7 linked regions of the Homo sapiens genome follow. The protein of the gene in region 1 purifies or fractionates together with the protein of each later gene. This does not show direct contact. Each region holds a gene or a part of one and is shown in the gene's direction. Other genes may lie near its edges. The genes, in order: CCDC102B, TRAPPC6B, UACA, DCTN6, USF2, EDC3 and GULP1.

Region 1 (4,158 bases):
ATAGAACTTATTTATTAACATGTTTTCCTTCATATATCCAAACCTTAAAGACATTACTTCTTCTCAAAGTAGAACTAGTATCTGGGATAACATTCATTTTCTTCTTCTTTTTTTTCAATGAAATAAAAATTATAGCTTATTTCATAACAACGAGGTTTTTTTGTTCAATGTATACATGATGGTAACTATGCTATCATTTTATGAACATACTGCCTACTAGTTTAGAATCATACTATCATTAAGTAGGCTTTACTGAAGGAGTATCTTTTTGCCGTACACGAAAACAGATGAGGATAGTTGAAATGCAAAGATTTGGTCACTGACCTTGAGATTTTATTTTTGTACAGGTTTAGGTTGCATTCTAAGAATATATTCTATAGAAGACATTTTGTATAACTAGTGCTCCATCCTCAGTGCCCTGACTAATTGTAGATGCTCAATGGAGATTGTGAGCTTGAGACCTTGATTGTAAAATGGAAAACTAGATATTGTATTGGAGGTTGTGCTCAAGGCCATTTAATTGTAGTCATAGCTTTGCAAAGGACTGTTAACATTATTATATACTTAAATATTATCCAAGTTGATTTATATTTAATGATATTTCCTAAAAGAATTGCTGTTGTGTGTCATAAATATATTAAAATATTTGATGTTAAAATTTTGATAGAAGGATTTTTTTAGTAGCTAAAGAAAAAGGTGTCCTTAATATTGAGAAAAAAAACATATGCTCACTGAAGAATTTATAAATATATCTTATCATAGTGTCTGTTTCAAATTTGTAGAATTAAAGTTTCCAAAAATAAAAGTGAGATTTTTAGTCACTGACTCGGGAGCATATGTTTCTAAGCTGCAGTAAACGTTTGGAAATATAACACAGGTAAAGAGGCAATAGTTGCATGAAGAAAAACCTGTAGCAACTTTAGACTCATTTTCATTTGGAAATAGTTTTGAGAGTCTTTCATACAATCTTTCCTTTCCTCCCTTAGTGAATTTAGGATTGTGAAGGCATTAGGTGAAAGATTACATTTATGACCTCTGCAAAAGATCAAATAGTCTTATTAGTCAGCCTATATTCATGAATTTTCTATCTTCTTTTGACATGAAGGGTTTTGAACAAGCGTTTCTTCTCTGGATGAGAAGAAAATGTATTTCACAATAAAACATGAAAATTATAAGGTGCTCAGTGGGATTATAACATTTGGTAGCACAGGAAAAAAGAGAAAGATGTGGAAGTGCCATAATCCATTGGTGTTTCATATAATTCTAGAAGGTTCTGGTTATAACCTGTTCCTAATTTGGAGCTAGAATAATCTCAGGGATTGTCTGAGGGTTCAGGTGAGCTTTGTTCTATCTTTGTTTGGAAATCACTTTACAGGTATTGTCAATGGTAGGAATGAGTTGGGTCAAAGCAACTACGTAGAGTCCCTGCCATCCTATTTTTGATACTGCCCAGGCTTCTTCATTCTTTTTGTAATAATGAAACTTAAGTTATAGAATTTATGATTGCATGGATTAAAAACATGGATGTTGCAATTATGTCGTGCTACAAGTGCCCTCTAAAGGTGTTAATGCTATATGAATTTACTTGCTGGCTTTTATGTTTTTGATATGTTTTTATATTTTATGTTTTTGGTATCAGGACTAAATAAATTTGACCTGATAATGTAGATTAATGGGAGAAATTCCAGTATTCATGGATTAGAACTAGGAGGGCTATCTCAGATACAGGCTTCTCACAGAAGGCTGGGGCCTAAGCATAGGTACTGAATGCAAAGCTCTGGTCCTGGACCTCACATGGTCCATTCATTGTCTATGGTTGGCCGTCATTGTTTCCTCTGTGGCTATAAGTTTCTTCCATATTATTGAGCAGGATGTTTATCTGAATTAATATAAATGACATATTCGAGAAGCATAGATCTTTATCCAAAACGATATCAGAAGTAGAAATAGTGCAGAAGACAAACTCCACCTCCCATCTGCTGATTCTTTTGAAACCCCTTGGTCCTCTTATCTCTGAAAGGGATACATGGCTTTGTTCTCCCAAATATCCTATCCACTTTCCACGCTGTTTCAAAAGTATTTCTGGCCAAATAAATGTAAATCTTCATCTTTTGTATATACAGATAATCATCATAGGTGTATTTGTGAATTATTTAAGTACTTGGAAGAATGAAGTTGCTGATAGCAATTAAAGTGGTGTGATTGGGGTTAACCTCACTTAAAACTGTTTCTTTATTAATTTTAAAAGCCTATAAGCGTTTAATATCTAAAAGCCACCTTCTTTAGAGAAGACTGACTTATTTAGTGGAACTTGTAATGCTTGCCTTTTGGAAGAAAAGGAATAGTTCTAAGTCACTCTGTTTTAGATTTGTCCATTTAGTAATAAATGTCTACCATGTCTCAGACACTGTTCTAGCAATGGAAATAGAGATGTGAATAAAAAGTAAAACCCCTTTCTTTACATTAAGCATATAGTCTAGCTGGTAAAGCAGTAGAATCCATACATAGTATATAAATATATATTAAGTCATGATAAGTACTGGAAGAAAAAAAGAACATTCAGGCTAAAAGGGAATAGAATATTTACACACTCTTGAAATAACCAGGGAATGTCCCTTCTGTTAGGGTGAAGGATGTAAGATACTTAACCACGAGGAATCTTGGCAGAAGAGAAGTATAAAGGAAATCACATGTGCTAAAGTCTTAAGTCAGAAGAATGTCCCTTCAAGGAATGGCCAGATGGCCGGCAGCTGCTGGGAATGAGCGAGGCAGGGAGGCACAGGCAGAAGCTACTTTAAGAGGAAGTAAATCCAGCTTAAGCTTCAAGATATTAGGGTGGTGCAAAAGTAATTGCATTTTTTGCCATTACTTTCAATGGGAAAAATCACAATTACATGGTCACCAACCTAATATTATTTTACTTTTAAAAGGGCTCTTCATACCCCAACTGTAGGAGCCTCAGGTCGGGAAATCATGGGTCCTGATGAAGAGTTCAGGGATGGTTTATGTTTAGATCATGACAACATCATAAACTACAACCACTTTATTCTGAGTTTGATGGGAAGTCATTTGAATGTTGGGATCCTAGAAATATTGTAACATAAGTTGAGTGTTCAAAGCATCCACTCGGCTGTGCTGTGGAGAACATACTGGAGTAGGGAAAAGGTAGAAGTGGGGAGGCCAGATACCATACAGTATTCCAGGCAAGAGACAGGGTGGTTTGAAGGAGATATTAGAGATGGAGTTTTTGTAATTCTGCATAGGCTGTATTTCATATTTTCCTGCCAGAACTGATGGAGTTTCCAACAATGATGTGCAATGAAGAGACAAAGGAATCAAGGGTAACCCCTAAGTTTGGTCTGTAAACCTAGAAGAGTGAAATGTGCATTTATTGACACAGGGAACACTGTGGAGGAGCAGGTGTAGATGTGAGGGGAGTTCAAGTGTTTGTTTTTGAACATGTGAAATCTGAGATGCTGATTAGATATCCTTAGTGATGTTAAGTGGGCAGCTGGACACGTGAGATCCCAGAGATAAAGGAACATCTCAGGCCAGAGATATGTCTGTTAGGAAATTTCAGAAAATTAATGAATTTGAAGTCAAAGGCCTGGATGCCTTCACCCAGAGCAATTACCCCAGCCTGAAGTCTCAGTGTTGGAGCGCTTGCAGTCAGAGGTGTGAAGCTGAGACAGAATGTGGGGCAGCTACCAGGGAGTAGGAGGAGAACCATGAGAGAGGATGCCCTCAGAAGCCAAGAAAGGGAATGATGAAATGGACAATCACATACAGGGCTTCTGGTTGGCCAAGTAAAACAGGAATTTCAGGCCTGGAATTGACCATTAGATTTGCAATGTAGAAGTCACTGATTTCCTGTTTTTGTGGCAAACTAGAGTTGAAAATGATACTGCGACTTCAAGAGAAAATGAGATAAATGAAAGTGTCTTTAAAATAATTTTTATTTTAGAAAATGCCAAAGATATGGAATGGCTGCTGGGTTGGGATCAAAATCTTTTTTTTTTTTTTTATGTTGAGGGTATTATAGCATGTGCATTTGCTAATGGGAATAATCTAATCTAGAGAGAGGTACAAACTAGTTAAACAGGAGAGGAGTATATTTGAGGAGGCCATGTCCTGGAGCGGATTAGAGGAAATTAGATA
Region 2 (4,158 bases), on another chromosome or scaffold:
TTAATCCTAAATAAAATGAACAGAGCTGTTCTACTCAGGCCTGATAATTTTAAGAGATGGACTAACATACAAGAGAAAGGAAGTTCATAGTTTTGAATCATTTAAGCTAAAAATAACTTTCTTTTTCTACTGCAGTGTATTTATGATGGGGGGGAAAATTGAAAGTACATAATAAGCAAAAATTATATAAATAACAGTTATGTGGTAGTCTTCATAATCAGAACCCATACTGAAATACGGGTATATAAGGGTTCACATTAGTGTCCATACTTTGAGTGTGCTTGAAATTTTTCATCATGAAAAATGTAAAAGATACATAATCCTGTCATCCAGAGGTGATTTTTAGAGATTTTTTTCAGACATAAAAAGATCTGTAAAAACTATGTTGTTTATGTCTGAAAAGACCTATAAAATCCATTTCTCGCTGACAGGATTATGTGTCTTTTTTTTTGTTTTTGTTATGGAAAGTTTTTTTAAATGAAATAAAGTTTTATAAATTTTCAGTATAGCAAAATAAACTTCCATAAGACTTGAGGTGAGATAAAAGAAAGAAACAGTGTTCTAACCCTCCAAATCAAGGTTTTTCAAACTATGCTTAAAGAGGAATTCTCTTAAAATGGACTAATTGGGCATTTCTCAATTTATGGTGAATGGATTTTGAAAGGCTAATGGATAAAATGTTCTCAAGTTGAATTTTTCTTAAAAATTTGGTGCCTACTCAAAAGTGCATGAACAAGTAGCAAAATTAAGTAGTAGGGCTTAATTCAAAAGCTCATGTGATCATAGGATTTGAAAGTGTCTGCATATAAGCATATTGTAACTGCCCAGTGGGTTCTTCTTCCCCACTGCCCAGGTAGAGCTGATCTATCAAGACAGGAGAATTGCAATAAGGAGTTTATGTAGAGCTGCTAAATGGGAGAGCAGAGTTTTATTATTGCTCAAATCAGCCTCCCCAAACATGCAGAGTCTAGGGTTTATCAAGGATAGTTTGGTAGGCTGGGGGCTGGGGAATGGGTGCTCCTGGTTGGTTGGGGATGCAGTTACAGAGGTGGGGGCCAGAGGACCAGTTGGAGTCATCCGAAATGCAAAAGTCTGAAAAGACATCTCAAAAGGCCTTTTTTAGGTTCTACAATAGTGATATTATTTACAGGAGTAATTGGGGAAGTTACAAATCTGTGACTTCCAGAATAATGTCTGATTATCATTTAACTACCTACATTTTAGCAGAATTCAGACCCCTCTCATAAGCCTAACCTTATAGTCTTTCATTAGTTTTGCAAAGGTGATTTAGTTTCGGGAAGGGCTATTATCATTCTTGCTTTAAGCTTACACTATAAACTAAATTTCTCCCAAAGTTAGCTTGGGCTGCATCCAGAAATGACCAAGGGCAGCTTGGAGGTTAAAGGCAAGATGGAGTTGATTAGGTGAGATCTCTTTTACAGTCATGATTTTCTTACTGTTACAATCTTTGCAAAGGTGGTTTCAATAGTTCCTGCTAATAAATATGTTCCTAGGTGATTCTACAGAGAGCAGATTATTCCAAAAAGAGCATCATGATTTACAGACACTTATTCTAGCTGAACTTGTTTTTTTGTTTTTTTTTTTTTTAAGAGACAAGTCTCTGGGTTAGTGTGGTGGCTCACACCTGTAAATCCCAGCACTTTGGAAGGCTGAGGTGGGAGAATTACTTGAGCCCAGGAGTTGGAGACCAACCTGGGCAACATAGTGAAACAGTGTCTCTATTTAAATAAAAAAAAAAAGAGGCTGGACACGGTGGCTCAGGCCTGTAATCCTAGCACTTTGGGAGGCCAAGGCAGGCAGGTCACAAGGACAGGAGTTCCAGGCCAGCCTGGCCAACATGGTGAAACTCCGTCTCTACTAAAAATACAAAAAATAGCTGGGTGTGGTGGTGCACGCATGTAGTCCCAGCTACTCGGGAGGCTGAGGCAGAAGAATCACTTGAACCCAGGAGGCGGAGGTTGCATTGAGCCGAGATTGTGTCACTGCACTCCAACCTGGGTGACAGAGCAAGACTCAGTCTCAAAAAAAAACAGAGAGAGAGAGAGAGAGACAATGTCTTGCTCTGTCATGCAGGCTGAAATGCAGTGTTGGGACTTTGGCTCACTGCAGCCTTGACCTCCTGGGCTTAAGTGATCCTCCCACATCAGCCTCTCGAATAGCTAGGGCTATGGGCATGCTACCATGTCCAGCTAATTAAAAAAATTTTTTTTTGTAGAAACAGAGTCTTGCTATGTTGCTCAGGCTGGTCTCAGACTCCTAGTCTCAAGTGACCCTCCTGCCTCAGCCTCCTACGGTGCTGGGATTATAGGCATGAGCACTGCGCCTGGCCTCATCCTAAGCATGTTTGAGAAGTGTGGAGAATAGCAGAAAAACTGAAGATAGTGATACGTACAGTAATAGATGTATGTACAGAATTTTACGACAGCATAGGGCCTAAGGAAGTTTCAGGGAAGCCATCTGGGAGAATGTAATACTTGAGCAGAATTTAAAGAATGTGAATGCCAGGCGCGGTGGCTCACGCTTGTAACCCAGCACTTTGGGAGGCCGAGGCGGGCGGATCACAAGGTCAGGAGATCGAGACCGTCCTGGCTAACATGGTGAAACCCCATCTCTACTAAAAATACAAAAAATTAGCCGGGCGTGGTGGCGGTCGCCTGTAGTCCCAGCTACTCAGGAGGCTGAGGCAGGAGAATGGCGTGAACCTGGGAGGCAGAGCTTGCAGTGAGCCGAGATCACGCCACTACACTCCAGCCTGGGCAACTGAGCGAGACTCCGTCTCAAAAAAAAAAAAAAAAGAATGTGAAGTCTAGGGAATAGCACATAAAAAGGCAGGGAGACAGAAGAGAACATGGCACTCTGGAGTTGCTGCAGAAATTTCAGAGTGGTAAAAGGGAAGGATGTTTGTGAATTTGGTTAACTAGCCAGGAGTCTTTAAGGAAAGGACATACCATGATGCCATGCTAAGGAGTTTGGACTTTATTTTTTGTTTGTTTGTTGGTTTGTTTTGAGACAGGATCTCACTCTGTTGCCCGGTCTAGAGTGCAGTGGCTAGATATTGGCTCACTGAAACCTCTGCCTCCTGCACTCAAGCCATCCTCCTACCTCAGCCTCCCAAGTAGCTGGGACTATAGGTGCATGCCACCATGTTCACCTAATTTTTGTAATTTTTTTAAAGATGAGGTTTCACTATGTTGCCCAGGCTGCCCTCGAACTCCTAAGCTCAAGCAATCCTTGGCCTCCCAATGTACTGGGATTTACAGGCATGAGTCACTACATCAGGCCTGGACTTTATTTTGAAGAAAGGGGAGCAGGTGCTGAAATTCCAGTAGAGAATAACATGATTTTTTTTTTAGACAGAGTTTCACTGTTATTGCCCAGGCTGGAATGCAATGGGGTGACCTTGGCTCACTGCAACCTCCGCCTCCTGGGTTCAAGCAATTCTCCTGCCTCAGCCTCCCGAGTAGCTGGGATTACAGGCATGCGCCACCATGCCCAGCTAATGTTTTATGTTTTTAGTAGAGATGGGGTTTTTCCGTGTCGGTAAAGCTGGTCTCGAACTCCTGACCTCAGGTAATCCGCCTGCCTCGGCCTCCCAAAATGCTAGGAGGCGTGAGCCATCATGCCCGGCCGAGAATAACATGATTTTTTTTAGAAATTTACTTTAGTAGAAGTTACACTACCAGAAATATAGAAGATGACACAAAGTAGGAAAAAATGAGACAAGACCAGTTGGAAAGCTATAGCTAAAAACCAGGAGAGAAATGATAAGGCTTTACTTAAGAAGTAAGGGTAGAGAGAGACGATGAATTTTGAAAAGCTTGTAAAAGATAGGCTCCACCGGACTACAGTGTATGGGGGGTTGGGAGCACAGGGGTGAAGAAAATGGAAGTTTTCTGGTTGGAGTAACTAGGTGAATGGTGGTGCCATTAATGAAGTTAGGAAATTTTGGAGGCAGAGCAGGCTGAAGACATTAATAAAATGAATATCATTTGAATATGCATACTTCGAAGGTCCTGTGGGACCACTAGATGTCTATGCCCAATAAAGTCTGTACTAGAAACGCAGATTTAATAGTCACAGCACCATAAGCAGAGTGCATGGTTCCTTAGAAGAAAGTTTAGCAAATAATAAGCCCTA
Region 3 (4,158 bases), on another chromosome or scaffold:
AAGTCTACATCCCCTCACCCAGAATGTCCTTTCCCTCCTTTCTACTGAGTTGAATCCTATACATTCATTAACATGTTATCCTCCTTCTTAAAGCCCTCACTGTCCAATCTAGTCTATAGTAAACAGTTCCTCCTCTAAGGTGGATGTTTTACTGTGGCTTTGCCATCCATTTAAAACATTTATATTACCTTGTTAGAATTATGTAGTTGATCTTCCCAATCAGTTTTTATGAGCAGGGTTTATAACTTAACTTTCCATCTTAGCTTTAATTCTCATGGTACAATTTACAGAATAGGTACTCAACAATATTTTTGACACTGATGTTGCATAAAGTTTTTACTATGGATATGACATATAAAGATTGGCTGCAGTTTTATCCATTCAACATGTAATGATTAAATGCCTTCTGCATGTCATGTGCTGGGGATACAGTGGAGTAAACACAGACACAGACTGCCCTCCCCAGTGGAAAGTACTTGTACATACTGTCCTCTGGCACACCATCTCTGTGATTGAGAATTTAAATGCTCTAAGCTTGTTCAGAAGGTACCTATGAATATATATAGTAATATATAAGAGTTAATTATTAATATCTACTTGTTGCCATTTATTGAGCGGGTGCATGTAATTGCATTTCATTTTCTTTGTTTTTTTTCTATTATTATTTTTCAATAAAAAATTTTGTGGGGGAGGAGATGGTATCTTGCTCTATTGCCCAGGCTGGTCTTGAATTCCTGAGTTTAAACAATCTTCCTGCCTTAGCCTCCCAAAGTGTTGGGACTATAGGTGTGAGCCACTGTGCCCAACCTGATTTTCTTAACTCTGAAAGATTGTCCACCTTTCACCAATGTGGAATCTAAGGCTCAGAAAAGTAAATTAGCCAAGCTCATACAAGTTGACTCTGTCTGACTTTAAAGCAGGGTGGAAAAATGCTATGTTTCTAGGCACTTCCTATTCCTATAAACAAGCCTCCTTGTTTTTTTTCTCTCTACAACAAAGTGGTCTTAAATAATACAACTCTTGAAAGGAAAAAGGAACATATGTTAATCCTAGACTTACACGGGCCACACCCTTTTACTTTTCACACTTTGTTGCTGGGAATCCCCCTTCCCTTCCTGTGTTCCATATGTTACCTGGAAGATAGTTCATGTGCCTTCGTAGATGCTTATATATTAGCTAAAAGTAAGACTATGTTTATACTCACATCTTAGGATATATGTAATATTTATTCTTAATTTGGTATTGCTTTTGTAAATAATTTCTGGAGAGGGATTTAATTATAAATTACATATTGTATACATCCTTGGTAACAGTCTTGGCAATATTCATACCTCAATTTTCTGGTGTATAAAGATAAAGCTTCTGTCTCCAAAAAGGAATGATTTCTGTACAAAGATGTTCATTGTACATGATAAGTGAATAATATATTTCTCCTACAACATTTTTTTAAAGATAACTGAACTGCTTAATGATGTGGAAAGATTAAAACAGGCACTCAATGGCCTTTCCCAACTCACCTACACAAGTGGGAACCCCACCAAGAGGCAGAGCCAGCTGATTGACACTCTGCAGCACCAAGTGAAATCTCTGGAGCAACAGCTGGCCGTGAGTAACCAGGCACACGGGGCTTTGCAGGAATATGTGCTGGCTCCCTGTAGTTAGTTTGTAAGGCTCATTTAGAAATTAAAGTGCTCTGTAGCTATGTTCGGATCCAAGAATATAATTATTTTTATATGCGAAAAGTTACCTATACTGGTGGTGTAATAATACTTATTTGATGCCTACTATACACCAGGCACCATATTAAACATTTTACGTACTTTATCTATAAACTTTATCTTCATCATGATCTCACAAAGCAGATTTATTCCCTCCATTTAATTCTTAAGGAAACAAAGAATAACATATTTGATGCCTGGGGTCATTCAGCTGGGGTATAAACCTGGAACTGGCTGACTCCAAATCCAGCATCTTTCTCATTGCAGGGTGCTCTCTAAAATATTGGTCCACTAAACTAAAGGAGGTTTTAAAATAATCTTTTATCTTTGTGAATAAAGAGGCATTCCTATGGTTTTATACCTTATATAGAAGGATAAGTGCCTGGATTTAGAAGCTAATGTTGGAAGGTCTGGTCTAAGTCCTGCCACTTACAAGGAAGTGGCAAGGAACATTCCCTTTAACTCTTGGTTTTCTCATCAAGAAAATAGAATAATAACTGATTACTTGTTTACATTTATTATTATTTTTATTATACTTTAAGTTCTAGGGTACATGTGCACAACGTGCAGGTTTGTTACATATGTATACATGGACCATGTTGGTGTGCTGCACCCATTAACTCGTCATTTAACATTAGATATATCACCTAATGCTATCCCTCCCCCCTCCCCCCACCCCACAACAGGCCCCAGTGTGTGATGTTCCCCTTCCTGTGTCCATGTGTTCTCACTGTTCAGTTCCCACCTATGAGTGAGAACATGCAGTGTTTGGTTTTTTGTCGTTGCGATAGTTTGCTGAGAATGATGGTTTCCAGCTTCATCCATGTCCCTACAAAGGACATGAACTCATCCTTTTTTATCACTGCATAGTATTCCATGGTGTATATGTGCCACATTTTCTTAATCCAGTCTATCATTGTTGGACATTTGGGTTGGTTCCAAGTCCTTGCTATTGTGAACAGTGCCGCAATAAACATATGTGTCTTTATAGCAGCATGTGTCTTTATAGCAGCATGATCTATAATCCTTTGGGTATATACCCAGTAATGGGATGGCTGGGTCAAATGGTATTTCTACTTTGAGATCCCTGAGGAATCGCCACACTGACTTCCACAATAGTTGAACTAGTTTACAGTCCCACCAACAGTGTAAAAGTGTTCCTATTTCTCCACATCCTCTCCAGCACCTGTTGTTTCCTGACTTTTTAATGATTGCCATTCTAACTGGTGTGAGATGGTATCTCACTGTGGTTTTGATTTGCATTTCTCTGACGGCCAGTGATGATGAGCATTTTTTCATGTGTCTTTTGGCTGCATAAATGTCTTCTTTTGAGAAGTGTCTGTTCATATCCTTCGCCCACTTGTTGATGGGGTTGTTTTTTTCTTGTAAATGTGTTTGAGTTCATTGTAGATTCTGGATATTAGCCCTTTGTCAGATGAGTGGATTGCAAAAATGTTCTCCCATTCTGTAGGTTGCCTGTTCACTCTGATGGTAGTTTCTTTTGCTGTGCAGAAGCTCTTTAGTTTAATTAGATCCCATTTGTCAATTTTGGCTTTTGTTGCCATTGCTTTTGGTGTTTTAGACATGAAGTCCTTGCCCATGCCTATGTCCTGAATGGTATTGCCTAGGTTTTCTTCTAGGGTTTTTATGGTTTTAGGTATAACATTTAAGTCTTTAATCCATCTTGAATTAATTTTTGTATAAGGTGTAAGGAAGGGATCCAGTTTCAGCTTTCTGCGTATGGCTAGCCAGTTTTCCCAGCACCATTTATTAAATAGGGAATGGTTTCCCCATTTCTTGTTTTTGTCAGGTTTGTCAAAGATCAGATAGTTGTAGATATGTGGCATTATTTCTGAGGGCTCTGTTCTGTTCCATTGGTCTGTATCTCTGTTTTGGTACCAGTAGCATGCTGTTTTGGTTACTGTAGCCTTGTAGTATAGTTTGAAGTTAGGTAGCATGATGCCTCCAGCTTTGTTCTTTTGACTTAGGATTGACTTGGCGATGCAGGCTCTTTTTTGGTTCCATATGAACTTTAAAGTAGTTTTTTCCAATTCTGTGAAGAAAGTCATTGGTAGCTTGATGGGGATGGCATTGAATCTATAAATTACCTTGGGCAGTATAGCCATTTTCATGACATTGATTCTTCCTACCCATGAGCATGGAATGTTCTCCCATTTGTTTGTATCCTCTTTTATTTCATTGAGCAGTGGTTTGTAGTTTGCCATGAAGAGGTCCTTCACATCTCTTGTAAGTTGGATTCCTAGGTATTTTATTCTCTTTGAAGCAATCGTGAATGGGAGTTCACTCATGATTTGGCTCTCTGTTTGTCTGTTATTGGTGTATAAGAATGCTTGTGATTTTTGCACATTGATTTTGTACCCTGAGACTTTGCTCAAGTTGCTTATCAGCTTAAGAAGATTTTGGGCTGAGATGATGGGGT
Region 4 (4,158 bases), on another chromosome or scaffold:
GATAGACTCAGGGATTATTAGTTTTTTCTATTTGATACATGTTTTTTTGTTTACTTAGAGCTTTAAAAATTCATGGCGGTGTGAAGGTTTGTCCACCCTAATTTGTGGAAGAAAAATTTGTGTATGTCTTCTTTTTTTTTTAGTTCATCACACCAGTAGGGAAGTTGGTACAATCTTAAAAATAGTTTTCATCTTACTTTGCATGTATATTAGGGAATACTTGGGGGGAAGATTCTGGCATAGAAATGATGGAGAGACATGTTAATGAAAGAATCTTTACCCTTCTGACTCTCAGAGCTGTATTTTTAGAACTCTCTTATGAGCTTCAGAATCTGTATTTTCAGTCGCTTATTGGATATATCTGGTGACCATTCCATAGATACCTCAGACTGAGTTTATCTAAAATTTAGCCAAATGACTTTTTTCTCTAAAATCTACCCCTCCTCCCATAGGCTATTCTCAGATGGTGCCATTAGTTTTCCAGATCAGAAACCTAGAGGCTTTGACCTTGCTCCCTAGCTCCAGACTTTTGATTAGTTTTCTTTTTTTTTTTTTTTTGAGACAGGGTTTCACTCCATCACCCAGGCTGGAGTGCAGTGGTGCAATCTCAGCTCACTGCAACCTCTACCTCCTGGGCTCAAGCGATCCTCCCGCCTCAGCCCCCCAAGTAGCTGGGAGTACAGGTGTAAGCCACCATACCCAGCTAATTTTTGTATTTTTTGTAGAGATGGGGTTTTACCATGTGACCCAGGCTGGTTTTGGTTGTTTTTCTGGCATAAGTGAAGCAGAGTCACAGCAGCTGATTTTGAGCCCTGGAATTTGAGCTTCCCTCTCCATCAGGAATCATCCCTTCCCAGGAAGGGGACAAGATGGCACCAGTTTCCTTATTTCACTCCATGCCCCTCACACCCATCCTTCTGTAGTTGATATGGTTTGGCTGTGTCCCCACCCAAATCTCATTTTGAAATGTAGTTCCCATAATTCCCACATGTTGTGGGAGGGACCAGGTGGAGATAATTGAATCATGGGAGCCGTTTCCCCCATCCTGTTCTCATGATAGTGAATTAGTTCTCATGAGATCTAATGGTTTTATAAGGGGCTTCCCCCTTCACTGGGCACTCATTCTCTTCCCTGCCACCATGTGAAGAAGGACGTGTTTGCTTCCCCTTCTGCCATGGTTGTAGGTTTCCTGAGGCCTCCCCAAACATGCTGAACTGTGAGTCAATTAAACCTCTTTCCTTTATAAATTACCCAGTCTCAGGTATGTCTCTATTAGCAGTGTGAGAACAGACCAATACACTAGTCAAACTTACTTCCCCTGCACAGAGAAGAAAGCAAATATAGTTTGCTCTTTATATCCATGGGTTCCACATCCATGGATCCAACCAACCTCAGATCGAAAATAGGAAAAAAAAATTGTGTCTGTAAACAATACAGTATAATTATTTACATAGCATTTACATTGTATTAGGTATTGTAAATTATCTAGAAATGACAAAGTATGAGAAGATGTGTATAGGTTTTATGCAAACACTGCAGCATTTTATATCAGAGACTTGAACATCTGAGGACTGGTCCTGGAACCAATCTCCCACAGATACTGGGTACTGAGGGATGCGACTGTATGCACTTTGTGGTCCATGGGGCCTGTAACAAGGAATGGGAAATACCTACCTTCAACGTTGCCTAGAAACCAGATTTTTATTAAATGTGTTTGTTGCCAAGTCTTGTTTCTATTTCCTAGACATACCTGCAGCTTCTCCTATGTGCTACCAGTGCATTTGATATGGTTTGGCCCTGTGTCCCCATCATATCTCATCTTGAATTATAATGCCCACCTGTTGAGGGAGGGACCCGTAATCCAAGTGATTGGATTATGGGAGTGGTTCCCCCATGCTGTTCTTGTGAAACCTGATGGTTTTATAAATGGTAGTTTTTCCTGCGCTCACACTGTCTCTCTGTCCTGCTGCCTTGTGAAGAAGGTGTCTGCTTCCCCTTTACCTTCCGCCATGATTGTAAGTTTCCTGAGGCCTCCCCAGTCATGTGGAACTGTGAGTCAATTAAACCTCTTTCCTTTATAAATTACCCATTCTCAGGGAAGTTCTGTAGAGCAGTGTGAAAATGGACTAATACAGCATTTCAGGCCTGCATTATCTCTGTAGGATTAGACCAACTGCCTCCCTGACCCCCCCCACCACCAAGTACTTCTTCATACAAGTGTCAATTATCTGCATACCATTTGGTGACATTGTTGGCTTGGGAATAGGAATCCTTCAGTGACTTCTTGCCTACAGGTGCAAATTCAAATCCCTGGTCATGGTGTACAAGCTTATTCATGGGCTGATCCTGCTTTTCCTCCCAGCCTTACCTGCTCCCTTTCTCTTCATGATTTTTGTGCTTCTTCTCATTCAGTGATGTCCAACCTGGGAGGGGGGAAGAGGTTTTTACTTTGTTACTTACCAGTCTTTGCTTAGATGTATGCATATGGTATTTAAAAATAGATAGAATAGATAAAATTGTGTTTTAATTTTTTTTTTTTTTTTTGAGACAGAGTCTCACTCTGTCGCCCAGGCTGGAGTGCAGTGGCGTAGTCTTGGTTCACTGCAAGCTCCACCTCCTGGGTTCACACCACTCTCCTGCCTCAGCCTCCCAAGTAGCTGGGACTACAGGCGCCCACCACCACGCCCGGCTAATTTTTTGTATTTTTAGTAGAGACGGGGTTTCACCGTGCTAGCCAGGATGGTCTCGATCTCCTGACCTCGCAATCCGCCAGCCTTGGCCTCCCAAAGTGCTGGGATTACAGGTGTGAGCCACCACGCCCAGCCTTAATATTTTTACATAAGCATTCTTGCACAAACATTTACACCTTTCTTTTCTTTTCTTTTCGAGATGGAGTCTCGCTCAGTCACCCAGGCTGGAGTGCAGTGGCGCTACCTCGGCTCACTGCAAGCTCCGCCTCCTGGGTTCATGCCATTCTCCTGCCTCAGCCTCCCCAGTAGCTGGGACTACAGGCCACCACCATGCCCGGCTAATTTTTGTATTTTTAGTAGAGACGGGGTTTTGCCATGTTGGCCAGGCTGGTTGGTCTCAAACTCCTGACCTCAAGTGATCCACCCACCTTGGCCTCCCAAAGTCCTGGGATTACAGGTGTGAGCCACCATGCCCAGCCCAAAACTATTGTATTTCTGTATACTGTGACAATTGGAAATCAAAATTTTGAAAAATCCAAACAAAATTACAAAGACAAAATATCTAAAATGTTAGTGTTATTTCATAGTAGCTGAGAGCAGATTTAACACCATGAATGTCATTGCCATTTAGAAAAATTCTTTTATTAATGAAAAGAAGTTTCCTAATAACTATCACTGTAATGGAGAAGTCATTTGATGTACTTCCTCATGTCAGCTCATGGTTCAGCTAGGGTCAGTGTTTACATACAGCTTTGTCAAACAAAAGATAACAGCAGAATATAAAAAAGCATCAATAAGTTATATGGAAATTATTAGAGTCTTTTGAAGAATTTGTACTACAATTTATATTACTTGGTAAAAAGTTTCTCATATATGTGTATGTATATATATATATGAGAGTAAACAGAAACATTTGTAAATTTTAAATTTCTAAGTTAGTATTACCTTGCTGGTTGTTAAATAGTTTGAATGTATATTTTTTCTTCCTACCTTTACAAAAATAATGGCATATTACATACTGTCCATTTTCTCACTTCACTCTTTTTTACTTTTAACAATATAGCTTGGAGATCATTCCATATTTTTTTTTTTAAGAGATGAGGTCGCCGGGCACGGTGGCTTATGCCTGTAATCTCAGCACTTTGGGAGGCTGAGGTGGGTGGATCACCTGAGGTCGGGAGTTCGAGACCAGCCTCACCAACCTGAAAAAACCCCGTCTCTACTAAAAATACAAAATTAGCCAGGTGTGGTGGCACATGCCTGTAATCCCAGCTACTAGGGAGGCTGAGGCAGGAGAGTTGCTTGAACCTGGGAGGCAGAGGTTGCAGTGAGCCGAGATGGTGCCATTGCACTCCAGCCTGGGCAACAAGAGTGAAACTCTGTCTCAAAAAAAAAAGATGAGGTCTCACTATGTTGCCCAGGCTGGTCTTGAATTCCTGGGCTTAAGCAGTTCTCCTTCCTTGGCCTC
Region 5 (4,158 bases), on another chromosome or scaffold:
CGCACTCCCATGCCTGCCTGGCCTCCAGAAGTAGGTCTGTTCCCCCAGGGAGCACATCTGAGGGAGAAACTGCATGAAGTTCTGCCTCTGGCTACCTAAGGCCGGAGCATCCTGCCCTTTCCAGAAACACCAGGTCTCACCTCAGGTCATTTGGCCTTCAGCACTGTCCCGCCCCGCCTGTCAGTAGCCACTGCAGTGGGCACAGCACTGTGCAAGTGCCAGGAGAGTGCTTACACCCAAACAACCATCATTCAACAAATATTTACTGCCCGTGGGTTCTGGGCTGAGCGGCACAGGCCCTGTGCCAGGTCTGGAGTCTGGCCTGGAGCGTCAGGGAGGCTCAAAGGCCTGAGGGCTTATGTCTCATGGGTCTCATGGGACATTGATGGGGGGTGGGCTGGGGTGACGCTTCCCTAGGGAGAGGGGAGTGTGGGTCAGGTTACTTTGTGGGGTGCTGGTTTGGTTGTGGGAGAAGTTCCATTTAGAATGCCTCAGGAGGGAAGATCGGGAAGGCCTCGAATGCCCGAGTGAGGGGCTGAATGCTGAGTCCTAAAGGTGGTGATGGGACTGGGGTCTGTGGCCCAGGTAGTTGTGTTCTGAGCAGCTCCTCCCTGAGTTCAGGCGTTCATTCAGCGCGTGCATACTACGACCAGCCCCCCTTTTGCGTCCTCAGATATGGCAATGCAGCAGATGATAGGACAGACAAGGTCTCAGCTCTCTGTGCGCGTTCTGGTGGGAGAGATGGGAGTCACACAGCCGCATCAGGCAGTGCAGGCAGTCACAGGCAGGAGAGGAAAGCTGGGGAAGAAGGTGGCGGGTGATGGCGGCATGGTAGTGTGCTCTGAAGGGCTCTTCGAGAGGTGACATTGAAGCAGATCCCTGAAGCGACCTGAGGGAAGGGGCCTGTTGAGAACCTCAGGAGAGTCCCGGGCAGAGGGAAGAGCTAGAACACAGGCCAGGCCCTGAGCCAGGGCCGCCATGGTGTGTCTGCAGAAGAGCAGAATTCAGGAAAGGAAAGAGGAAGTTGGCGCAGTGGAGGGGGCTGCCCAGGCCAGATGGTGGAGGACCTTGGAAGAAGTCCCCAGTGTGGCTGTCTGGGCTCCTGTGGTTTTATTCCAGGGTGATGAGAAGCCAGCAGAGGGGTTTGGGTTGTGGAGGCTGTTGGCAAGAGTGGTGGGAAGGGGCTGGGAGGTAGGAGACCATACGACTGTCAGGCCTGAGACAGGGCAGGGGTTGGGGGAAATGTGGGGAGGACTCCAAGGCTGGAGAATAAGGGTTTCGTGCTGAACTCCCCTCCATGCTTGGAAGGGAAGGGGTGCATCTGAGCTTGGTTTTGAGATGCAGTGAGTTTGAGGGGCCCCCAGAGCAGCCCCAGCCCCACGACTTACCTGTGGTGGGGCGTCAGGGTGGTTCTTAATCTCCGTACCTGTCTTCCCTCTGTGAAATGGTGGAAGCACAGCCGCCCCGGGCACCTGGTGGGGATGCAGTGAGTCTTGGTGGCCACACAGTAAGGCGAAGAGAGGACTCAGAACCCTCCCACCCCACTCTCACCCCCGCCTCTCCCTTAGTTAATCTGACTCCAGGCAGCCTTGAAACTTTCTCACCCTGTGAAGCAGTCTTCATCACCTGCCCACTTCTCCAGCTCCGTCCTGTCTCCGCTTTCCTGACTTGCAGAGCATCTGCCCCAATCTGCTCATCCTCCCAGTACCCTCAGCCATCTGGCTCATGGCTCTACCAAAACAGCTCCACTTCCGGTCACCCGTGGTGACCCCATTGCCACATCCACTGGCCTCCTTTGCTGTCTGGGCTCCAAGCATCTGATGCTGCCTGTTTCCCTCTGTTCCTTTCTGGAATCTTCCTTTCTCCTCCATCCTCTCTGATTCTCCTGTGATCTTTGCCTTTCCTACCCCACTGTTAACAGTGAAATTTCCAGGGCTGTCCCAGTTCCAAGTGAGTAGATGGGGGTGCCGGGGAATCTGTGTTTTCCATCAGCTCTTCAGGTGATTTGTCATAGTGGACAAGCTTGAGAAACTGCTTTGGCTGCGAGTGTTTCTTTTTTTTTGAGAAGGGGGTCTCACTCTGTCACCCAGGCTGGAGTACAGTGGCACAATCACAGCTCACTGCAGCCTTGACCTCCCAGGCTCAAGCGATCCTCACACCTCAGGCTTCTGAGTGGCTGGGACCACAGGCAGGCGTCATCACATGGGGTAATTTTTTTTTATCTGTAGAGTGGAGGTCTTGCTATGCTGCCCAGGCTCGTCTTGAACTTCTGGCCTCAGGCAGTCCTCCGGCCTCGGCTACAGGCCTGAGCTGCCACACCCAGTCTTGCTGGTGTTTCATAAGGTCCGGCCCCTCCCGTCGGCCTCAGGTGTATGACTTGTGAGGCCCAGCGATGGGCTCGGAAGCTCTTGGTCAGTATCCCCCAAACTCTGTTCCCCCTTGTAGGTGTTCCTCTTTTTTCTTTGCTGCAGAAGAGTGTGTGACTCACAAAAAGTTGAGGACTGTTCCTTGATGTCCTCCCAGGCTTCGCCCACCACCTGGCTCCTGGTAATGCAAGGAACTGTGTTTCCATCCATTCCCTTCCTTTCACTGCAACTCCAGCCCCACGTTTTGAACTACCTATTCGAGATTTCTGTCTCTGGACATCCCTGTAATGCCTCAAACTCAACTCGCCCAAAAGAGAATGTGCCATCTCCCGTCTCCAAAGGCTTTCATGCAACCTTCTTCTTTGCAGAGCAGCAAAAGCTACCCCTGTCACAGCTGCCCAAGCCAGAAACTAAGACCAGAGCCGCTTTCAACTCTGCCCTCTTCTTCCCTTATGGCCACAAACCCCAAGTTTCTCTTCTGTGGTGATTTCAGATCCGCTTCTCTCACTTCTTTTTCCCTCCTTCCCACCACTTCTTGGTACTGCAGGAGCTTATCCCAGAGTCACAGACTCAAATGCCTGCAGGGGCCTGAGGGAGGGAGGTGCACTTGGCATCTCAGGAAGGGGTGTGTGGCTGGGTGTGGTGGCTCCCGCCCGGAATCCCAGCACTTTTGGGATTACATTTTGGCCAAGACGGACGGATCACTTGAGCCCAGGAGTTTGAGACCATCCTAGGCAATGTGACAAAACCCTGTCTCTACCAAAAAAATTAAAAATTAGCCAGGCCTGGTGGTACATGCCTGTAACAGTCCCAGCTACTTGGGAACCTGTGGTGGGAAGATGGCTTGAGTCCGGGAGACAGAGGTTGCAGTGAGCTGAGATTACCCTCCAGCCTGAGCAACAGACCCAGACCTTGTGTCAGAAAAAGATAGGAAAGGTTGTGGGGGGCCCCCAGTGATCTGGGGCATGTGTGCGCTGCCTGAAGGGTGGCCCTTGCCCAGTGCCTTCCCCTTGCTGCCCTGTCAGAATCTAGGGCCACTGTTGCCAGAAACTCTGAGAAGCTAGAAATCGAGACTTATGTGAAATCTGATTTTTAGGTGCCAGATTAGATTGCTTTTTCCGTTTCATTGATTTCTACTCTTAATGTTACTAATTCATGCTTCTACTCACTTGGTTTTTTGTTTGTTTGTTGTTTTGTTTTGAGATGGAATCTCGCTCTGTCACAGTGGCGCAATCTCAGCTTACTACAACCTCTGCCTCCCCGGTTCAAGTGATTCTCCTGCCTCAGTCTCCCAAGTAGCTGGGACTACAGGTGCCCGCTGCCACACCTAGCTAGTTTTTGTATTTTTGGTAGAGACGGGGTTTCACCATGTTGGCCAGGCTGGTCTCGAACTCCTGGCCTCAGGTTATCCACCTGCCTCAGCCTCCCAAAGTGCTGGGATTACAGGAGTGAGCCACTGCACCCGGCCCCTTCTACTCACTTTGGATTCAATTTGCTAGGTTTCATGCTTTAGCTTCCCTGGCACACCCCAACCCCAGCTTTTTAAGGTAATTCTTTTTTTTTTTTTTTTTCCAATTTTCTACTAAAATCTTTATTTTACAGGATTAATGTTTCACAGCAGGGATTGAGATGATTCTTAACCTTTCTCTTTGCTTAACAACATTTAGAGTTGCCAGTTCACTCCAGCATCACTTTAGCTACATCCCACTGGGATATGTTGTTTTTGTTATCATTCAGTTTAAAGTGTTTTCCAATTTTCCTTGTGATTTCTTCTTTGACCTTTCTGTTATTT
Region 6 (4,158 bases), on another chromosome or scaffold:
CTCCACTAAAAATACAAAAAATTAGCCGGGCGCGGTGGCGGGCACCTGTAGTCCCAGCTACTCAGGAGGCTGAGGCGGGAGGATGGTGTGAACCCAGGAGGCGGAGCTTGCAGTGAGCTGAGATAGTGCCACTGCAGTCCGGCCTGGGCGAAAGAGCGAGACTCCGTCTCAAAAAAAGAAAAAAAAAAAAGAAATGGAGGGAGAAGGAAGACAAATAAGACTAAATGAACTTTGGTAGCAAGTTCTTGACTGAATAGTAATTCACAACATCTCTGAATTCAGTAGTCATTACAATTTTAGGAATAATTTATTGGGAGAATAACAGTATCAATGAAGCAAGAGTAAATAAGAAGTATGTTTAAGAAAATACCAAAACCATTGCACCCCACCAGAATGAGTAAGTTGAAGAGAACAATAGTACCAAGTTTTGGCAAGATGAGGAGCAGAAAGAACTCACGTATGGTGGGTTGTATAAATGTAGATGGTAATACAAAATGGTACAACCACTTTGGAAAACTGTTCAGTGGTTCCTAATAAAGTCATAAATATAACATGACTTCCTGTGTTATATGCCCAGTAGAAATGGATGTATTTGTCCATCGCAGAAATATACTGTATACAGTTTAAGAATATTATTTGTAATAAGTCAGAACTAGAAATAACCCAACTATGTATCAGCAGTAGAATGGATAAATACATTGAGGCATGCTTACAGAAAACAGCACAGCTATGAGAAAGAATAAACTTCTGATACATGCAACAATGGGGATGAATCTCACAAATGTACTTTTTTTTTTTTTTTTTTTGAGACAGCATCTCGCTCTGTCACCCATACTGGAGTGCAGTAGCAGGATCTTGGCTCACTGCAACCTCCGCCTCCCCAGTTCAAGCGATTCTTGTGCCTCAGCCTCCTGAGTAGCTGGGATTACAGGCATGTGCCACCACGCCCAGCTAATTTTTTGTATTTTTAGTAGAGACAGGGTTTTGCCATGTTGGCTAGATTGGTATTGAACTCTTGACCTCAAGTGATCCACCCGCCGTGGCCTCCCAAAGTGCTGGGATTACAGGCATGAGCCACCATGCCTGGCCTCACAGATGTACTTTTGAGCAAAAGAAGACAAACACTCTGAAAGAGAACCTTTATGATTCTGTTTATGTGAAGCTCAAAATCAGGCTCAAATAATCTTTCATGATAGATGTCAGAATAATAACTACCTGTAGGAGGACACAATGGAGCCTTTTGAGGTGTTGGAAATAGTCTGTCTTGTTTTGAGTGGTGGTCACATGGGTGAATTGATATGTAAAATTTCAGGGAGGTGTACACTTAAAATATGTAGACTGACTTACTGTATATGTTATACCTTGATAGAAAAGTAGAAAATAAAAGACAAGATTGGTTCCTTGTAGCTCCTGTATCTCCTGTACTTCTTTTGACGTGGAGGTGTTAGCTGTATAATTGATGGAGCCCCTTCCCTAGTCCGATTAGGAACCCAGTTGATGGGCACTGTACTTGTTTTAGATTTACTGTTTTCTGTAAATAGCATAATTTTCTTTATAGAATAAACCTGTTTGAGGAGTTTTGAATAATGCTATTTTACCAAGGGAAGTTTCTGAGGAAAGGGAAGTTTGTTACACATTCAGTGGTTATATTTTTAAAAGTTTCTATTAATATTAACTACATAGAAGAACACTTATAAACGAGTATCCACATTTTCAAAGTGTTAAAAATTCTATTCAGTTACTACTACCATAATATAAACTTGAATGCACAACATCAGTGTCTTAAAGATATATGTTAAATAAAACAGTAAAAGCCTTTTCATATCTGGTTAATTTCTGGTGCTTTTTATTCTGCATCTATCTAAGCATCTGAGTAGAATTATGATGGATTATAAATGATAGGAAAGGAAACTCATGCTTTTGTGACATTAGGCAAAGGTTGATCAGGAAGGGAAAAGAAGCCTAAAATGTGTGTATTTTGTGCTTTTTTACCATCATCATTATTGTTGAAATTGTGTTGCATTGAAAATTTACCCAAGGGCCAGGCACAGTGGCTCATGCCTGTAATCCTAGTGCAGAGGCTGAGGTGAGCAGATCACCAGAAGGCAGGAGTTCGAGATCAGTCTGGCCAACATGGTGAAACCCCATCTCTACTAAAAATACAAAAATTAGCTGGGTGTGGTGGCGGGCGCCTGTAGTCCCAGCTACTCAGGAGGCTGAGGAAGGAGAATTGCCTGATTGAACCTGGGAGGCAGAAGTTGCAGTGAGCCAAGATTGCGCCACTGCACTCTAGCCTGGGCGACAGAGCAAGGCTCTGTTTCATTCTATAATAAATGTAACAAAAAAAAGCCTGTATGAGCCTGCTAATTCATTGTTCTTTTAATCTTCGGTTCTGTCCGCATAGTTTTATGATACTGGCTCAGTTAGATCACTAGAGAACTATCTAGAGTTTGATTAATCCCTAGAGCTGGACTCTTTCAGACTTAGTGTTTCTAATGGGGCATACTGTTTTTTGTTTTTTTTTTTGAGACAGGGTCTTGCTGTGTTGCCCAGCCTGGTCTTGAATTCCTGGACTCAAGTGATGCTCCTGCCTTGGCTTCCCAAACTCCTGGAATTACAACTGTGAGCCACTGCACCCAGCCAGGAGTGCTTTATTTTTATTTATTTTTTATTTTTTTCTAGACGGAGTCTTGCTCTGTTGCCCAGGCTGGAGTGCAGTGGTGCGGTGTCGGCTCACTGCAGGCTCCGCCTCTTGGGTTCAAGCAGTTATCCTGTCAGCCTCCTGAGTAGCTGGGATTACAGGTGCATGCCACCATGCCGTCCACGTCGGCCTCCCAAAGTGCTGGGATTATAGGCGTGAGCCATTGCGGCTGGCCTGGAGGAGTGCTGTATATGCTTTTTTGCCCCTTTCCCTTCATTTATGTATTTATTTTGAGACAAAGTCTTGCTCTTGTTAGCAGGCTGGAGTGCAGTGGCGCAATTTCTGCTCACTGTATCCTCTGCGTCTTGGGTTCAAGTGGTTTTCCCACCTCAGCCTCCTAAATAGCTGGGATTACAGGCACCCACCACCACACCTGGCTAATTTTTGTATTTTTAGTAGAGATGGGGTTTCACCATGTTGGCCAGGCTGGTCTCAAACTCCTCAGGTGATCCACCTGCCTCGGCCTCTGAAAGTGCTGGGATTATAGGAGTGAGCCACCGTGGCTGGCCTATTTAATTTTTTTTGAGATGGAGTCTTGTTCTTGTTGCCCAGGCTGGAGTGCAATGGTGTGATCTCAGCTCACTGCAACCTTCGCCTCCCAATTTCAAGTGACTCCCCTGCCTCAGCCTCCCAAGTAGCTGGGATTACAGGCATGCACCACCATGCCCGGCTAATTTTTTTTTTTTGAGACCGAGTCTTGTTCTCGTTGCCCAGGCTGGAGTGCAATGGCACGATCTCAGCCCACTGCATCCTCCGCCTCCCGGGTTCAAGCGATTCTCCTGCTTCAGCCTCCTGAGTAACTGGGATTACAGGAACATGCCACCGCATTTGGCTAATTTTTGTATTTTTAGTAGAGATGGGGTTTCACCTTGTTGGTCAGGCTGGTCTCGAACTCCTGACCTTGTGATCCACCTGCCTCAGCCTTCCAAAGTGCTGGGATTACAGGCGTGAGCCACTGCGCCCGGCCAATTTTGTATTTTTAGTAGATATGGGGTTTCATCATGTTGGTCAGGCTGGTCTCGAACTCCTGACCTCATGTGATCCACCTGCCTTGGCATCCCAAACTGCTGGAATTATAAACGTGAGCCCCCACACTCAGTCAGGACATACTCTTTTACCAGAGGGGTGCTTTATATGCTTTTTTGCTCCTTTATGTCTGAAATTAGTATTTGAAAACAGTTTCAAGTGCTGGTTTCTTTTTTTAATGTAAAAACACTGAACCAGTGTTTCACTTTGTGCTTAACATGTGTATTTATATTCATCTGCTATCATCTGCTAGCTGTTTTCTGACTTCCTCGTGTGAGTGGGGAAGTGTTAGGTTTCATACCTTATATAGGATTTTGCATAGAGTATGCCCAAGGATACTGTATTTTTTAGAACCATTTTCAAAAAGAGCCAAGACATTTAGATATAAACATGTAGGTACTCTAGATTTTGAGTAACTTCTGTCACGTTTA
Region 7 (4,158 bases), on another chromosome or scaffold:
TCATATACTAACACTTTATTATTAAAATAGTGATTGACCTCTGTTTTACTTTGGCTGCTATTCTGCTTTTCCAATATTGATAACACATTGACAAATAGTATTTTCAGGGTAATTGAAGTGATACTGGTTTACTAGCAGAATGAACTGATAAAATTTAAAAGTACCGTATGGTATCAAACATTTCCACATGTAACTCTCTTTCTATCTGTCATTATCTATCAATGTATCATCTATTTACCATTTGTAATATACCAGAAGATGACATAATATACAGATCTTCAGATATCCAAATAAAATAATTTTAAAGAAAAGTTTACTTACAGTATTTTAGTTTAAAGTATTTATTTTTCTAAGTATTTGCTGGCTGTTTGAAAAATATAAATAAATATGGCAAAATGTATTTTGTGATAAGAATAGATTTTTAAAAAATAATGATAAGTAGTCTCATATTTACTCAACTAAATAAAGATTGTATTCCAAGTACTGGAAAGACATTTTGAAAAACTTTCACAATGATTACATCACTGTAATTGCTATATAGTAGTAGTCTCTGTGCTGTAAACATAAAGAATATTCTTTGAACATTAATAACAAATAAAGTATGGCTTACAGCTTTGTAACTACCTTCCTCCTCTATATGATGATGTTTACATTGGATTTATAGAAAGATAAGAACATTTACATAATTATTCTAAATAAAAGTAATTTGGAGAGATGCAAAAAGATACCCAATTAGCTAACATACAAGTAGATATAGTCAGTCCAATTAAATAAAACACCCAAAGCAGAGGTGAAAACCAATGGTTACCTTTAGGAGACATTTTGTTTTCTTTAGGAATACACTGCTATCTGCATATTATTTGCCAATAATGTGTTGCATGGCCACTCCAAATTACAAATTACCTTTCTGAAACATTTCAGTTCTGTTAGTAAGAAAAAAAAGGTAGAGTATGTAGAGAGCACTACCACATTTGCTTCTACAAGGAGACCTACAATGTAACCTCCACTTTCATTGATCAGTGCAAGTCTGTGCTTTTCATCTTTTTGTAGGCCAATGTGTATAGATTTACAGGAAAGGGTAGGAATGGGGAGAGGTGGCAAGACTGGAGATGGCCCACAGTTCAATTATCTTATGCAATAAAAAAAAAAGAGATTGGAGTGAAGGAGGACAGACTCCTATGCCATTATTTTAATTCAAAATCTTGGTGGAAAAACACTTTCTTAGCAATTGTGTTCTTATACTCAATAAATCATAGACAACTTAACTTCTAAAATATGCAAGGAAGAGTAGGAGTCAAAGAAGCCAGTCCGCTACAAGCAACAGCAAGGCTAGTAGGGGAAGTTTTCTCCATGGCAAAGTAATCTGCAGTTGTGTGTTCCACAGAGGATACGGCATTGCATTTAAAAGAAGTATTTTACCCGGGCTCTGGTCAGTGCTAACCAGGAATAAGGTGAAAATCATCAGGCTATCTTGAACCTCTCATCAATTTGAAGCCTAACTATCTTAATAATATTTAAATTAATAATAATTTTTAAAGCTAACAGATTTCATTTACAATAGAATGATGTAGTAACTAGCCTTTTCTGAAAAAGAAACCTTTATCTTAATTTTATGTTTTCTCTTCTGTCTCTCATGCATGCTAACCTCACATAGATTTAAAACATTAAAGTGTTAATGGGTCTGAAAGAACTACCAGTGCTATACACCTATATAAAAATTCAGCAAGTCAACATTTGACATATAGTTATTTATTAGTTGATCAAAGCATGAATATTTCAACTTTAGTGCATAGTCTTTTTTATTCACTGATTTTATTTTGCTGTAAGCATTTCAGATATTAATTATTTTATTCTGTTTTACAGGAGGGGTTCAAAATGGGACTAACTCTTGAAGGCACAGTATTTTGTCTCGACCCGTTAGACAGTAGGTGCTGACATCAAGAACAAGAAATCCTGATTCATGTTAAATGTGTTTGTATACACATGTCATTTATTATTATTACTTTAAGATAGGTATTATTCATGTGTCAATGTTTTTGAATATTTTAATATTTTGAAAATTTTCTCAGTTAAATTTCCTCACCTTCACTATTGATCTGTAATTTTTATTTTAAAAACAGCTTACTGTAAAGTAGATCATACTTTTATGTTCCTTTCTGTTTCTACTGTAGATGAATTTGTAATTGAAAGACATATTATACAAATACCTGCCTTGTGTCTGAGTTCTATTTAGTTAGCATCTTGAAATTTGTATTCATTTTCCAGATGGCTAGTTTATTAATGATTTCCCAAAAGCCATACCTTAAAGATAACTTTTTAAATTCTGAAGAGACATGCCAATGTCAAACTAAACATGTTCTGTTTTTAAACCAACAAACATGTTACTATTCATTGGACAGATATCATTTTATGTATAAATACTGTTCACATCACTGGGAAAATGTAAACTTTAAACATAATGCCACAAGGTCACTAATTTCTAGCAGGTAAAATTATAAGGATATAAATTCCAATAATAAACCAAATGTATTTAGAGTATTTATTAGTAAATGCAAGGTGATGTTAGTTATGATCAGTTATACTCTAAATATTTAATTTGTTTTATAAAGGTAGTGAAAAAATGAAAATTTGCTATTTATTAAAAAACATTAAATTTCATTCCAAATGAGATAAGTGATATTACTATAACATCTAAGCATCATCTGATTTGATATTCCCTAAAAAACATTTGGAATATATGCTATCTATAGATTCAGTATCTACTACCCATATTTACTTTACCAAATATATTTCTCCTCACTGCATAAGGACTACTCTTCTCATATTTTCTTCTTTGATGAAGATATTTTTCACCAAAGTTTATTTTGTGATGCCCTCTTGGTTTTGATACTTTAAAATCTGTGGCACCCGTTCTACATGAATTATCAATATTTGGTAAATTCAATCTGTATTTGTTTTGTTAAAGTCAAAAATCTCATTTTCCAAAAAAAAAAAAAAAACCCAGTTACTGCTCAGTTTAGTCTTGAACATGAGCAATAAAATTCTCTTGCATTTCATTATTGATGTGCTGATGAACCTGGACTTTTAAAAATATTTGTTTCCTATACCTTTACCCTTTACCTAACAGACTAATTTGTACTCAGTAAAACAAAAATTTATGGTCAAAATTTCTAACTTGGTTCATCACATTATAAGATAAATAAATTAAATTAATGAAAATGTGACTTAGAGTAGGGGTAGCCCTCAAAAATAGATTTATCATTTACTCATTGGAATTTTCTTCAAGTGTTAAAGGTACATTTTCACTAGGAAAAGAAATCAAATATGCTTATGCAATATATATTTGTGTGTTTTTCCTTAATGTTATATGGTATATATGAGCCTTCTTGTTTAGTTTCTTTTATCTGCTAAGTTGTACCTTAATTAGAGGGCAATATATGTTTCATAAAGAAGAGTCTTTATAATTTTGTTTGTCAGATAGTATTTTGGAATTTGTATAATAAGGATGTTTAGAAGCCATATAAGTGGCTTTTTTTAACAGATAGAATTTGTATTTTTATTGTACTTTAAAAAGATTTATGTAATAGGTATATATTTAGTGGCCATTTATTATCAATGGTAACACAATGGAGTACTAAGATGGTATTTGCACATTTAAGATATGTTACTTTACCAATTTTTAATGGTAATCAACTCTGCTACTGGCATGATGAAATAGTACATAACTGGTCATTAATTATGAACATTTATTTCTCCAGTGCGTTTTTATGAAGATCTGGTTGAAAATTGTATTTCTATGTAAACTCAACGATATGTTTGGTTTTCCTGAAAATAAATGATTTTAAATAAATTAAATTGCATAATTCATTTGTTAAATAATCTCTAATTAATACAGACACATTCTGAAGCTAATTATGTAACAGATTTTCTTGATCATAAATGGAGATAAAAGAAAGGGAGGAAGAGGGAAAGGCAAAGAAGAAATAAAGGGCTTTACCTTTAACTTCATTTCTTGCAGCCCACACACATTTTAGCTTTATGAGCAAATATCATTCAGTTGTGAAAACAGTGGACTGATCCTGCTGGTGAGAGAGGTCATGATTTGCTTCCTTTTACCAGAAGCATCTGGTGCAAAAACTGTATTATGTAAATATCAAT

The links.
Region 2: the proteins of CCDC102B (region 1) and TRAPPC6B purify together in Homo sapiens (affinity purification with mass spectrometry; one large-scale study listed by BioGRID and IntAct). This does not show direct contact.
Region 3: the proteins of CCDC102B (region 1) and UACA purify together in Homo sapiens (affinity purification with mass spectrometry; one large-scale study listed by BioGRID and IntAct). This does not show direct contact.
Region 4: the proteins of CCDC102B (region 1) and DCTN6 purify together in Homo sapiens (affinity purification with mass spectrometry; one large-scale study listed by BioGRID and IntAct). This does not show direct contact.
Region 5: the proteins of CCDC102B (region 1) and USF2 purify together in Homo sapiens (affinity purification with mass spectrometry; one large-scale study listed by BioGRID and IntAct). This does not show direct contact.
Region 6: the proteins of CCDC102B (region 1) and EDC3 purify together in Homo sapiens (affinity purification with mass spectrometry; one large-scale study listed by BioGRID and IntAct). This does not show direct contact.
Region 7: the proteins of CCDC102B (region 1) and GULP1 purify together in Homo sapiens (affinity purification with mass spectrometry; one large-scale study listed by BioGRID and IntAct). This does not show direct contact.

Annotation. Positions count from the first base shown.
Region 1 is NC_000018.10:68,800,856-68,805,013, forward strand, and holds part of CCDC102B (coiled-coil domain-containing protein 102B), read left to right. Parts: intron 1-4,158. UniProt on the Homo sapiens protein: During interphase, forms fibers at the proximal ends of centrioles to maintain centrosome cohesion. During mitosis, dissociates from the centrosome following phosphorylation to allow centrosome separation. Contributes to CROCC/rootletin filament formation.
Region 2 is NC_000014.9:39,163,706-39,167,863, reverse strand, and holds part of TRAPPC6B (trafficking protein particle complex subunit 6B), read left to right. Parts: intron 1-4,158. UniProt on the Homo sapiens protein: Component of a transport protein particle (TRAPP) complex that may function in specific stages of inter-organelle traffic.
Region 3 is NC_000015.10:70,662,109-70,666,266, reverse strand, and holds part of UACA (uveal autoantigen with coiled-coil domains and ankyrin repeats), read left to right. Parts: intron 1-1,452; coding exon 1,453-1,605; intron 1,606-4,158. UniProt on the Homo sapiens protein: Regulates APAF1 expression and plays an important role in the regulation of stress-induced apoptosis. Promotes apoptosis by regulating three pathways, apoptosome up-regulation, LGALS3/galectin-3 down-regulation and NF-kappa-B inactivation.
Region 4 is NC_000008.11:30,159,222-30,163,379, forward strand, and holds part of DCTN6 (dynactin subunit 6), read left to right. Parts: intron 1-4,158. UniProt on the Homo sapiens protein: Part of the dynactin complex that activates the molecular motor dynein for ultra-processive transport along microtubules.
Region 5 is NC_000019.10:35,271,513-35,275,670, forward strand, and holds part of USF2 (upstream stimulatory factor 2), read left to right. Parts: intron 1-4,158.
Region 6 is NC_000015.10:74,685,555-74,689,712, reverse strand, and holds part of EDC3 (enhancer of mRNA-decapping protein 3), read left to right. Parts: intron 1-2,533; exon of another isoform or gene 2,534-2,622; intron 2,623-4,158. UniProt on the Homo sapiens protein: Binds single-stranded RNA. Involved in the process of mRNA degradation and in the positive regulation of mRNA decapping. May play a role in spermiogenesis and oogenesis.
Region 7 is NC_000002.12:188,592,077-188,596,234, forward strand, and holds the end of GULP1 (PTB domain-containing engulfment adapter protein 1), read left to right. Parts: intron 1-1,863; coding exon 1,864-1,935; 3' UTR 1,936-3,850; downstream 3,851-4,158. UniProt on the Homo sapiens protein: May function as an adapter protein. Required for efficient phagocytosis of apoptotic cells. Modulates cellular glycosphingolipid and cholesterol transport. May play a role in the internalization and endosomal trafficking of various LRP1 ligands, such as PSAP.